Linked DNA regions of Homo sapiens. The protein of the gene in region 1 purifies or fractionates together with the protein of each later gene. This does not show direct contact. Each region holds a gene or a part of one and is shown in the gene's direction. Other genes may lie near its edges.

Region 1 (3,648 bases):
ACAGTGATCAGGCTGCTGCCTCCTTTGATCTGATGAAGACACCTGTTGGGGGCCTGGCAGCAGGTACCCCTGTCAGCGATTCCAGCAGCTTCCTCCTGCCCGCCCCTCTCTCAGCCATGCTGTGGCTTCTGGACAAGCTGACAGCTGTGTGCTGTGTGTCTGTCTGTGTCCACCCCTGCAGGCAGCCTGCCCTATGAGTACAAGATCGTGATCGCGGGCAACCACGAGCTGACCTTTGACCAGGAGTTCATGCAGCTTCCTCCTGCCCGCCCCTCTCTCAGCCGTGCTGTGGCTTCTGGACAAGCTGACGGCTGTGTGCTGTGTGTCTGTCTGTGTCCACCCCTGCAGGCAGCCTGCCCTACGAGTACAAGATCGTGATCGCAGGCAACCACGAGCTGACCTTTGACCAGGAGTTCATGGCCGACCTCATCAAGCAGGACTTTTACTACTTCCCATCTGTGTCGAAGCTGAAGCCGGAGAACTATGAGAATGTGCAGTCGCTGCTGACCAACTGCATCTACCTTCAGGACTCGGAGGTCACCGTGCGGGGCTTCCGGATCTATGGCTCCCCATGGTGAGTGGGCCTGGGTGCTGGTCCTGCCTGCTGGTGAGACCAGAGCTGAGGCTGAGCGCAGGGGGTGTAGGGGATGGGAGTAGCAGCAGGGAGCTCCGGATGCGAGGCTCAGGACTGAATCTTGACCCCTTACCCTCTGTGTGACCTAGGCAGGTCACCGCTGCTCTCTGGGCCTGTTTTCCCACATCTCACTGAAAATAGTATTATCAGCTGTAACCTGTGTTATGCTATGCTGTACTAGCTCACTTACAGGCAGGTACTATTATCTCCATTTTACAGGTGAGGAAACTGAGGCCCACAGTGGGTGAGGACCTTGCCAAAGGTCACACAGCTAGGAAGGGGCAGAGCTGGGATTAAACCCAAGCAATTTGGTTCCAGAACCCCTGCCTTTAATGAATATTCTATAATGCTAGGAATCTTTCTCTAATGCTGTCTTCCTGCTCCATACAAAAAAAGATGCATATGTCAGGGGCTGGGGGAGATGATGATCGTAATAATGATGATATTGGTGATGATGGTGATGGTGATGATGGTGGTGATGATCATCATGATGATGGTTGTGGTGGTGGTGGTGGTGGTGATGTGATGGTGATGGTGGTGATGATGATGGTTGTGGTGGTGGTGGTGGTGGTGATGGTGGTGATGATGGTGGTGATGGTGATGATGGTGGTGATGATCGTCATGATGATGGTTGTGGTGGTGATGTGGTGATGGTGATGTGGTGATGGTGATGATGGTGGTGGTGATGATGGTGGTGATGGTGATGATGATGGTTGTGGTGGTGGTGGTGGTGGTGATGATGATGATGAGGGTGAGGGTGAGGGTGATGATAGTATGGTGATGGTGGTGGTGTGATGATGATATTGAGGGTAGTGATGGTGATAATGATGGTGATGATGATGGCGATGCTGCTGATGATGGTGATGATGGTGGTTATGCTGATGGTGATGATGGTGAAGATGGTGATGGTGGTATGGTGATGATGTGATGATGGTAATGAGGATGATTACGGTGGTGGTGGTAGTGATGGTGGTGATGATGATGGTGGTGGTGGTGGTGTGATCATAATGGTGAGGGTAGTGATGGTGATAATGATGGTGATGATCATGGTGGGGGTGGTGGTGATGATGATGATGGTGATGGCAGGAAATAATTTCTGAGCAATTACAGTAATCTGGGCCCTAGGCTAAAGGCTCTATAAACCTTATCTCTAATCCTTACTCAGCCCTGTGAGGACTGATTTATTATCCCTATTCTATAGGTGGACAGAATGAGCGGCCACAGGGTGCCCAGTGCTGGCAGGGTGAGGTGGGCTTCATACATGGAAGGGCAAGATCACATATGCTTAAAAGTGTGGCTTGATCCTGGAAGGCTCCCTGGAGGAGGTGGGGTAACCTGAGCCTTGAGGGAAGAGAAGGGTATTCACAGGCAGGGAGGAGTAACGTGGCCTGAGGCTGCACTATCAGGAAGCAGCACAGTCAGCGAGGCTAAGGAGCCCTTTAGAGGCACAAAGGGCTTGCCTGGGTGGAAGGACTTCAGAGAGAGCTACTGCCAGCACAGAGCATCTGGGAAACCCCTGTGGCCCTGGTTGGTGCCTCATGGTGACCACCTAGTGGCTGGAGGCGGCAGGCAGATTTAGGACCTGGTTTCATCTTGCCATAGCCTCCTCATGGAGCAGAGGGGAAGGTGGGGAGGTGCAGGGCTGTCTCATCTTCCCTGGCCTCGGCAGGTGCCTGCTGTCATCTCCCTGGACTTCACGATGTACAGGGTCTTGGTGAACCCTCCCTGCAGCCAGTGAGGTCCCAGACAAGGACCTCTGGGCACTTGAGGATGTGATGAGGTCAGTACCAAGGACAAGGAGAGGAGGGGAGGTGGCTGAGTCTGCCTCACCGGCCACTAGAGCTCAGATCTGGAGAAGTCTGATAGGCCAAAAACCAGGAGGGCCGTCTAGAAGGAGGACCCAGCAAGCTTTCCCCTTGACCCCCCTACCAGCCAGGTGCACACACACAGCCTGTGCCATGCCAGGGAGTGGGAGAAGCCGAAGGACAGAGAAGGGAACTCGAGCCCAGGAGGTGGGTTCAGGGGCCCTGCTACCCTGCTCCAGAAGGGGTTTGGTGAGATCCAGGAGGGCTCCCTGTTGGAGGGGGCATTTGAACTGGGGCCAAAAGAGGCATGAGATTTCCACAGGCAGAGGAGGCAGAGGGAGACCACATGTCTGAACCTCTGTTATGTGTCAGGCCCTGTGCCAGGCTCTTCTTGGGCCTGTCACTTGACAGCCCTTAACACAAGGGCTGAACGCCCCCTCTCTCCATCCCGCAAGGGAGGCTGTGAGCTGGTGCTCCTCCTGTTCCTCTCAGGCCCTGTCTGGGGCTGGGAGCAGGTGGTGGAGGTGAGACCTGGGCTCATTTGTTGGGCAAGTTTCACTCAGTTTCCAACCGGGGTGAGCAGATTGCCTGCGTCTGCTGCTGTGGTGCCACGGAATGGATGCCAAGCCACTCTGGCCGCTACCCTCCCCTGGGAGGCTGGGTCCCTGCCACCATGCCCCAGCAGAGAGTGTCTGGGAAACCCCTGGGCTGCCCTGGTTGGTGCCACATGGTGGCCACCTGGCGGCTGGAGGCTGTGGGCAGATTTAGGACCTGGTCTCATCTTGCCACGGCCTCCTCATGGAGCAGAGGGGAAGATGGGGAGGTGCAGGGCTGTCTCATCTTCCCTGGCCTCGGCAGGTGCCTGCTGTCATCTCCCTGGACTTCACGATGTACAGGGTCTTGGTGAACCCTCCCTGCAGCCAGTGAGGTCCCAGACAAGGGCCTTTGGGTACTGGAGGCTGTTCAAATTGGGATACCACCACTTTTCAGCTGTGTGACTTTGGGCAGGTGGCTCAGCCTCTCTGGTCTTTCTGTGTAGTGGGGAAACGACACCGCCTGCCTTGTTGGGGGGTTGTGAGGTCTGCTTGGGCCCATCCAGGTGAAGGCCTGGCTCAAAGGAAGGCCCTGGAGAGTGGCTGTGGTCATTTATTATTACTGGGGTGCTCCTTGGGGAGCGAGGAAGAGGATAACTATTTAGTTTTATTCCAC
Region 2 (3,648 bases), on another chromosome or scaffold:
GGAGCTGGGATTACAGGTGTGTGCCAACACACCTGGCTAATTTTCATATTTTTTGTAGAGACAGGGTTTCGCCGTGTTGCCCAGGCTGTTCTCAAACTCCTGTCCTCAAGTGATCCACCTGCCTCAGCCTCCCAAAGTGCTGAGATTACAGGTGTGAGCCACTGCGTCCAGCCTAACAAATACTTTTTAAGGGCACATATCATTGGTAAGTTGTGAAAGCAGTCATGAAATGTCATATGTCATTAGGGAATTGTATTTGAGAGTTAAACTGTGTGTAGAAATTTCACATAAGAAAATATCAGGGTATCCTGCAAGTGTCAGCTCGATGTAAATGGATGTGATTTTGACACCGCAGTCATCAATATAGTCTGGGCCACGTTCACTGACGTCCAGAGGAGGAAGGGAGATGGCCCTCCTGGCTCTTTGGTTGGACCCCTTCTGGAGGCTGGATTCAGACCTCTGTCACATTTTAAGAAGACATTGGTGAATTAGAGTGTGTTTAGTTGATATCCTGGAAGAGTAGGAACTCTAGAAATCTTTTCATATGAGAACAGTTAAAAGGAACTGGAAGTGTTCAGTGTGGAGAAGGGAAAACTTAGGCAATATGTGATGTTTGAAGGGCCCACGTGGGAAAGAGATTAAAACTTTAATCTTTATCCAAGCTGGAATCCACAGACCAGAATTATGGATATATTGCAGTTCAGTGTGAGATGACCTTTCTAACAATTAGTGCAGGTATAGAGACTTTTTAAGCATTTATAAAGTGGTTATCAAAAGCAGACAGGGCTCTTGAGCTTCAGAGCTGCAGTATCCTCCTTTTCTCCCCAAGACGAATTGGGTTTATCTCATAAGCATTATTTTTATTTTTATTTATTTTTGAGACAGAGTCTCACTCTGTTGCCCAGGCAGTGGCGTGATCTCAGCTCACTGCAACCTCTGCCTCCTGGGTTCAAGCAATTCTCCTGCCTCAGCCTCCCAAGTAGCTGGGATTACAGGCGCCTACCACCACAGCTAGGTAATTTCTTGTATTTTTTTTTTTTTTTTAAGTAGAGACGGGGTTTCACCATGTTGGCGAGGCTAGTCTGGAACTCCTGACCTCAGGTGATCCAGCCGCCTCAGCCTCCCAAGGTGCTGGGATTACAGGCATCAGCCACTGCACCCAGCCTCATGAGCATTATTTTTAAAAGACTTGTAGTAACTTGGATCAAATGCTTCTGGTTTTAGTAGTTTAAGAGTACATGGATAGAGTTAAGTGGATATTTACATTCTGAGTCTCTCAAGTCTAAATTTTTATTTTGAAAGTTCTGAGAAAATAGATGTTTTAAGCTACAAAGACAGGTAATTGTCTTGAACCCAGGCCATGCTGTGGAGACGTTCACTGTCCGTAGACTAGTTTTGCATTGACAGTAGAAACAGGAAAGTAAATTGCTAAAAAACATTCATTTTTCTTTGACTTCAGCCAGGCACAGTGGCTCATGCCTATAACCCCAGCACTTTTGGAGGACAAGGTGGGAGGATTGCTTGAACCGAGGAGTTTGACACCAGCCTGGGCGATATAGTAAAAACCCCGTCTCTACCAAAAAAAAAAAAAAAAAATGCCAGGCGTGGTGTGGCATGCGCCAGTGGTCCCAATTCCTTGGGAGACTGACGTAGGAGGATCTCTTGAGCCCAGGAGGTTTGAGGCTGCAGTGAGCTATGATCATGCCACCACACTCCATCCTGGGCAACTTTAGCAAGACCCATTCTCAAAAAAAAAATAAATAAATAACACTTTTGGGCCGGGCGCGGTGGCTCACACCTATAATCCCAGCACTTTGGGAAGCCGAGGCAGGCGGATCACAAGGTCAAGAGATCGAGACCATCCTGGCCAACATGGTGAAAACCCATCTCTGCTAAAAATACAAAAAGTAGCTGGACATACTGGTGCCCGCCTGTAGTCCCAGCTACTCGGGAGGCTGAAGCAGGAGAATTGCTTGAACCCAGGAGGCGGAGGTTGCAGTGAGCCAAGATCGCGCCACTGCCCTCCAGCCTGGTGACAGAGCAAGACTCCGTCTCAAAAAAAAAAAACAAAAACAAACAAAAAAAAAACTTTTTTTTTTAATTGACTTCATTACAAAATACGATGGTGATTTGGACACTTAAAATGTCAAGTGGTTCTGAAAGAGATATCTCACATGTGTAATGTTTTGCCTCTCTCCAAATTAGGAATGGCTTTCTAAAGGACATGGGGAATACAGAGAAATCCCTAGTGAAAGAGACTTTTTTCAAGAAGTCAAGGAGAGTGAAAATGTGGTTTGCCATTTCTACAGAGACTCCACATTCAGGTAACTTTGTTTCCATCTGTGACTTTTTCTAAAAAAACACAGTGAATTGTTTGGCTGGAGATATACTGGCTTACTAGAGAAATGAAGAAAACTAAAAGAAAAAACTTCCTAAGTTGTTTCATTGTACTCTCTCATATGTTATTTAGTATTAAGTTAAGCAGGCAGGGGCCCAGTGACTCAAGCCTGCAATCTCAGCACTTTGGGAGGCCAAGTGGGGGGTGGATCACTTGAGGTCAGGAGTTCAAGACCAGCCTGGCCAACATGGCGAAACCCTGCCTCTACTAAAACTACAAAATTAGCCGGGTGTGGTGGCAGGTACCTGTAGTCTCAGCTACTGGGGAGGCTGAGGTGGGAGAATTGCTTGAACCCAGGAGACAGAGGTTGCAGTGAGCGGAGATCGCGACACTGCACTTCAGCTCGAGCGATAGAGTGAGACTCCATCTCAAAAAAGAAAGAAAAAAAAAGTTAATTGTTATTTTAAAGAGTAACTTAAAGAACAGTTACATGCAAAAGTATAAATGAATATTACTGAAAGTCAATATTCCCATATAAATGGCTTATATTTTTGAATTGTATTTTCACTAGCTAACTAAAAACATCTTAGAAATGTACACTTAAAATTCTTATCACCATGACAGTAATTATTTCCCTCTAGTATTGTGATGTAGCCATGATATTGGGAACGGGCAACAGCTGTTGAGAGTCAGTGTTCCTTCAGTTCCTCCTTGAAGGAACTAGCAACTGTGGTGGGGAGATGGTGGCTTGGCCAAACCTTTCACCAGAGCAGAGTTGGGACTGCCAGTCTTGGCTAGAAGGAGAAGTGATTTTTCTTAGACCACCCTAGGTCTCCAAATTTCTCTAAGGAAGCAGATCTCTTATAAAATGTTAATACCTCCTCAGAAGAGGTCACATCGTAAACCAAAGGACCCAAGCCTTTGTGGTTTTTTGTGCACAGATTTGATTAGTTGCCAACACTTAAAAATCGAGAGATAACTCCTTTTGAAAATATCCACACTTAGAATTTTTCTTTAAAAAATCAGAAAACTTGCTAATAGCATAGCTGGAACTATGATGGCAGTCATCTGCTGACTGGCACCTGCCTACCCAGGACAGACAAGCACTGTGCTCTAGAGTCTCTGGCACTCACTGTGGTTTCAGCCCTGCTCTCTTTCTCATTTCTGTGGCCTTCTTGCCCCTTTGTCTTGATCTCACAACCCAACAGCTTCATTGTTAGTTAACACCTTTCAAGAATTGATTGCCTGGTATTCATTGACTAAGAGAATAAAAATGAAACAAAATATTGAGATGGTGAAATCCCTTGTGA
Region 3 (3,648 bases), on another chromosome or scaffold:
AGAGGCCTTCGCCATCGGTGAGAGCAGCGGGGGGGTGGGACCTGCTGCCGGACGCCTGCCTCCGGCTCCCCTCCAGTGCCTGTGGAGCAGGAGAAGGAAGCCGGGCAACCGCAGGCAGCGGCAGCGGGATGGGCACCTCTGGGACCTATCTGTGCCGGCAGCCTGCCTGTTCCTCACAGAGGGTCTCCACTCCCGCCGGCAGGCTTGGGAGGCGGCAGTGCCTCTGGGAAGACCACTGTGGCCAGAATGATCATCGAGGCCCTGGATGTGCCCTGGGTGGTCTTGCTGTCCATGGACTCCTTCTACAAGGTGGGCCCCCGCCCAGCTCCCCCGAGGACCCCTTTGTCCTCTCCCTGACCCTGGACCCCCTGCAAAAGTAGGTCCCTGGTCTCAGCCCCAGCGTGGCTGCTCCTGGGAGGCCTAGAGCCCCTGTCCGCTGGCATTGGGTGAGGGCCCTACTGTGCCCACAGCTGCTCCACAGCCTCCCCCACCAGGTGCTGACTGAGCAGCAGCAGGAACAGGCCGCACACAACAACTTCAACTTCGACCACCCAGATGCCTTTGACTTCGACCTCATCATTTCCACCCTCAAGAAGCTGAAGCAGGGGAAGAGTGTCAAGGTGCCCATTTATGACTTCACCACGCACAGCCGGAAGAAGGACTGGGTAGGCCAGGGCCCTGCAGAGGGGGCCTCGGGGGGCTGCAGGCACATGAGCCAGGCTCCGCAACTCCTGGGTTTCTTCACAGAAAACACTGTATGGTGCAAACGTCATCATCTTTGAGGGCATCATGGCCTTTGCTGACAAGACACTGTTGGAGGTAAGCACCCGCCGGGAATACCCACCCCGCTGGTATCTCAGCCCTGGCCGCCCTGTCCATGAGGTGTGCGTCCTCCTGCCCTGTCCCCAAGGCCTCCACACTGTATAGGCCTAGGCCAGCCACTCCCTACCCCAACCCCAACCCCAGGCATGCCACAGCTGGGTCCATCTGCCGGCCCCAAAAGGCAGAGCGTGGCTGCCTGAGGCAGTGGTTCCTCTCCACCGGCTGAGGCCTGTGCGCATACCTGGAGTGTCCTTGGCGTTCTCGTCCCTTGCCGTGGTCCTGACGGACAGGTGAGGACCCAGGGCTGGTGTGTTTGAGAGATTTTGCTGTAGCTCAAGGGGGCCTTCAGGACACAGCTGAGTGTGACTCAGGTTGGCCTGATCCCAGGGCCCAGGTCCTGCCCCTTGTACAGGCCCAGAGGACTCCATCATCCGGCACATAGCAGCCCCCAGCCTCCACAAGGCCTCTTCACGGGCCAACTACTGTGTGCTGAGCATGGGGACAGACCCTAAACTCGCCACGTCCCCCATTCCCCAGTGTGTTGGTGCAAGTTACCCCAAGCAAAGTAAGGAGATCACATGTGCCCAGCCCCATTCCTGCCTGATTCCTTAGCCAGCCACCATGCCATGCCTCTTCACCTAAGCCCCTGACGGGCAGCACCGCATCCCCAGACACCCCCACCTCCCCACTCCTTCCCACCTGCCAGGGTGCCCTGGGGAAGTGGCTCGGGCCAGGCCCACGGACCAGGTGCAGACACCCCCACCTCCCCACTCCTCCCCACCTGCCAGGGTGCCCTGGGGAAGTGGCTCTGGCCAGGCCCACGGACCAGGCGGCCTCAGTGCAGGGGCTGGTCCCAGTGTCTCCATGCCCACTGCTGGCATCTGGCCACTCACTGGCCCGCTGTCTCCACCAGCTCCTGGACATGAAGATCTTTGTGGACACAGACTCCGACATCCGCCTGGTACGGCGGCTGCGCCGGGACATCAGTGAGCGCGGCCGGGACATCGAGGGTGTCATCAAGCAGTACAACAAGTTTGTCAAGCCCTCCTTCGACCAGTACATCCAGCCCACCATGCGCCTGGCAGACATCGTGGTCCCCAGAGGTGAGCCTGCTGGGCTGCCTGTTGGGTGGGTGTCGGGCAGGCCAACGGCCCAGCCCCCGGTCACCCGCCCCCCCATCCCGCCCCAGGGAGCGGCAACACGGTGGCCATCGACCTGATTGTGCAGCACGTGCACAGCCAGCTGGAGGAGGTGAGCGGGGTCCCACGTCCCCACGGCCTAGCCCCCAGCCCCTCTACCCACTTCTCCGCTGCCACCACCCCCAGTGGCCTGGTCACCTCATCCCCCTGCGTTCACTGTCCCCTGCCAGGTGCCAGCCCTGAGTGTCCTGAGCCTGCTTGGCCAGTCAGATTGTCCAGCCCAGACCCCATCCCGTTGTGCTGTGCAGGGCCTGGGTTCCCTGAGGAAGCTGGGGTGGGGGTACAGGTGCTCAGGACCCAGCCGAGGGTGCAGCCCGCTCAGCACACCCAGCCTGAGCTTTTGGGAAGACAGGCATGACCTGCTGGCCCAGGATTGTGGGGTTTCACTGCTGAGTCCCACGCCAGGCCAGGCTCCTCTCTTTCTCAGGGGGTCACCCCAGGAGCGACACCCCCACCAGAGGTCCCCTGCTCCCTGAGGCATTCTATGGCTGGGCCTTGGAGCCTGAGTGGCTCTGAACACACTCCCTACCAGGATGTTGAAGGCCTGAGGCCTGCAGAACAGAGCCCAGGGTCCTGGCTCTGATTGCCCCAACGCAGAACTGCAGGTCTGGCCCAGGTGGTCCCCAGGTTACAGGCATTAGAAGCTTGCCACCCCCCATGGCTGGCTGTGTCCCCGCGGGCCTGCAGCATGTCCATTCCTGGGTGGGGGTGGCCTGGCCGCCTGCCCTGGTCACTGACGCGCCACCGTTCCCTTGTGTCTTCCTGTGTTGCTGCCACAGCGTGAACTCAGCGTCAGGTAAGACTTGCACAGCTGTCTGCACAGATGGAGGCACTTCCAACACCTCCAAGGAGCTCTGGGGTCTGGGCTGTGATCCAGCCAGGCAGCTGGCTCTTCCCCAGTCACAGAAGGGGTGGTGTGGAGTGGTCCCAGCCCTGCTTCTGCCTCCCCTTGCTGGCAGATGAGGACACTGAGGCACAGAGACGTGAAGTAGCTTGCCCAGCGTCACGGAGTCCTGACCCTGTCCTGGCCAGACTTTGCTGGAGGCTCCCCTGACTCCTGAGTCTGTCTATGGGATTTGACCCCAGAGAGCACAGCTGTCCTCCTGAGCCAGCACTGCCAGGCCTCTGGGGCAGTGACTACAGACATGTCCCAGCAGCCAGGGAGCCTGCTGTACCTCCTGTGCCCAGCCTCACGGACCAGTCAGCTTTCCCTGGTTGCAGGTGGAGGGCCTCGCGCCTGTCCTCCCACCCACCCGGGTCCTGCTTGCCCCAGCTCTGTCCTCGCAGCCCGCACAGCTCTGCCAGCAGGAACTGGGCAACTGCAGCAAGAAGCTTGGGCTGGGCCGGGGCCGCATCCCACTGTCCCTCCCCAAGGGCAGGCATGCAGGGGGGTCAGCCACAAGGGACCTGCCCTTCTCCCTGCCTTCTGTGGGTTGGGAGGCTCCTGACTGAGCCACCTGGAGGGAGAGCCCTCACATTCAGAGCCCTCCAAAGAGTTTGCCAAATGTTGGAAATGCCTCCAGGGCCCGTCCACCAGCCGTCCAGCTTCCGGTGCCTGCATGAGTCTCCGCTTGGCCCTCTCCTCGGCCTAGGAACCCGCAGGTCTTGTCCCGTCAGGTTCCTCCTG

The links.
Region 2: the proteins of MPPED1 (region 1) and TXNDC9 purify together in Homo sapiens (affinity purification with mass spectrometry; 4 studies listed by BioGRID and IntAct, with this or other methods). This does not show direct contact.
Region 3: the proteins of MPPED1 (region 1) and UCKL1 purify together in Homo sapiens (affinity purification with mass spectrometry; 3 studies listed by BioGRID and IntAct, with this or other methods). This does not show direct contact.

The regions. Positions count from the first base shown.
Region 1 is NC_000022.11:43,474,388-43,478,035, forward strand, and holds part of MPPED1 (metallophosphoesterase domain-containing protein 1 precursor), read left to right. Parts: intron 1-348; coding exon 349-574; intron 575-3,648. UniProt on the Homo sapiens protein: May have metallophosphoesterase activity (in vitro).
Region 2 is NC_000002.12:99,326,211-99,329,858, reverse strand, and holds part of TXNDC9 (thioredoxin domain-containing protein 9), read left to right. Parts: intron 1-2,205; coding exon 2,206-2,324; intron 2,325-3,648. UniProt on the Homo sapiens protein: Significantly diminishes the chaperonin TCP1 complex ATPase activity, thus negatively impacts protein folding, including that of actin or tubulin.
Region 3 is NC_000020.11:63,942,822-63,946,469, reverse strand, and holds part of UCKL1 (uridine-cytidine kinase-like 1), read left to right. Parts: coding exon 1-17; intron 18-202; coding exon 203-309; intron 310-470; coding exon of another isoform or gene 471-494; coding exon 495-665; intron 666-747; coding exon 748-819; intron 820-943; exon of another isoform or gene 944-1,387; intron 1,388-1,735; coding exon 1,736-1,925; intron 1,926-2,011; coding exon 2,012-2,073; intron 2,074-2,448; coding exon of another isoform or gene 2,449-2,604; exon of another isoform or gene 2,605-2,800; coding exon 2,801-2,817; exon of another isoform or gene 2,818-2,913; intron 2,914-3,648.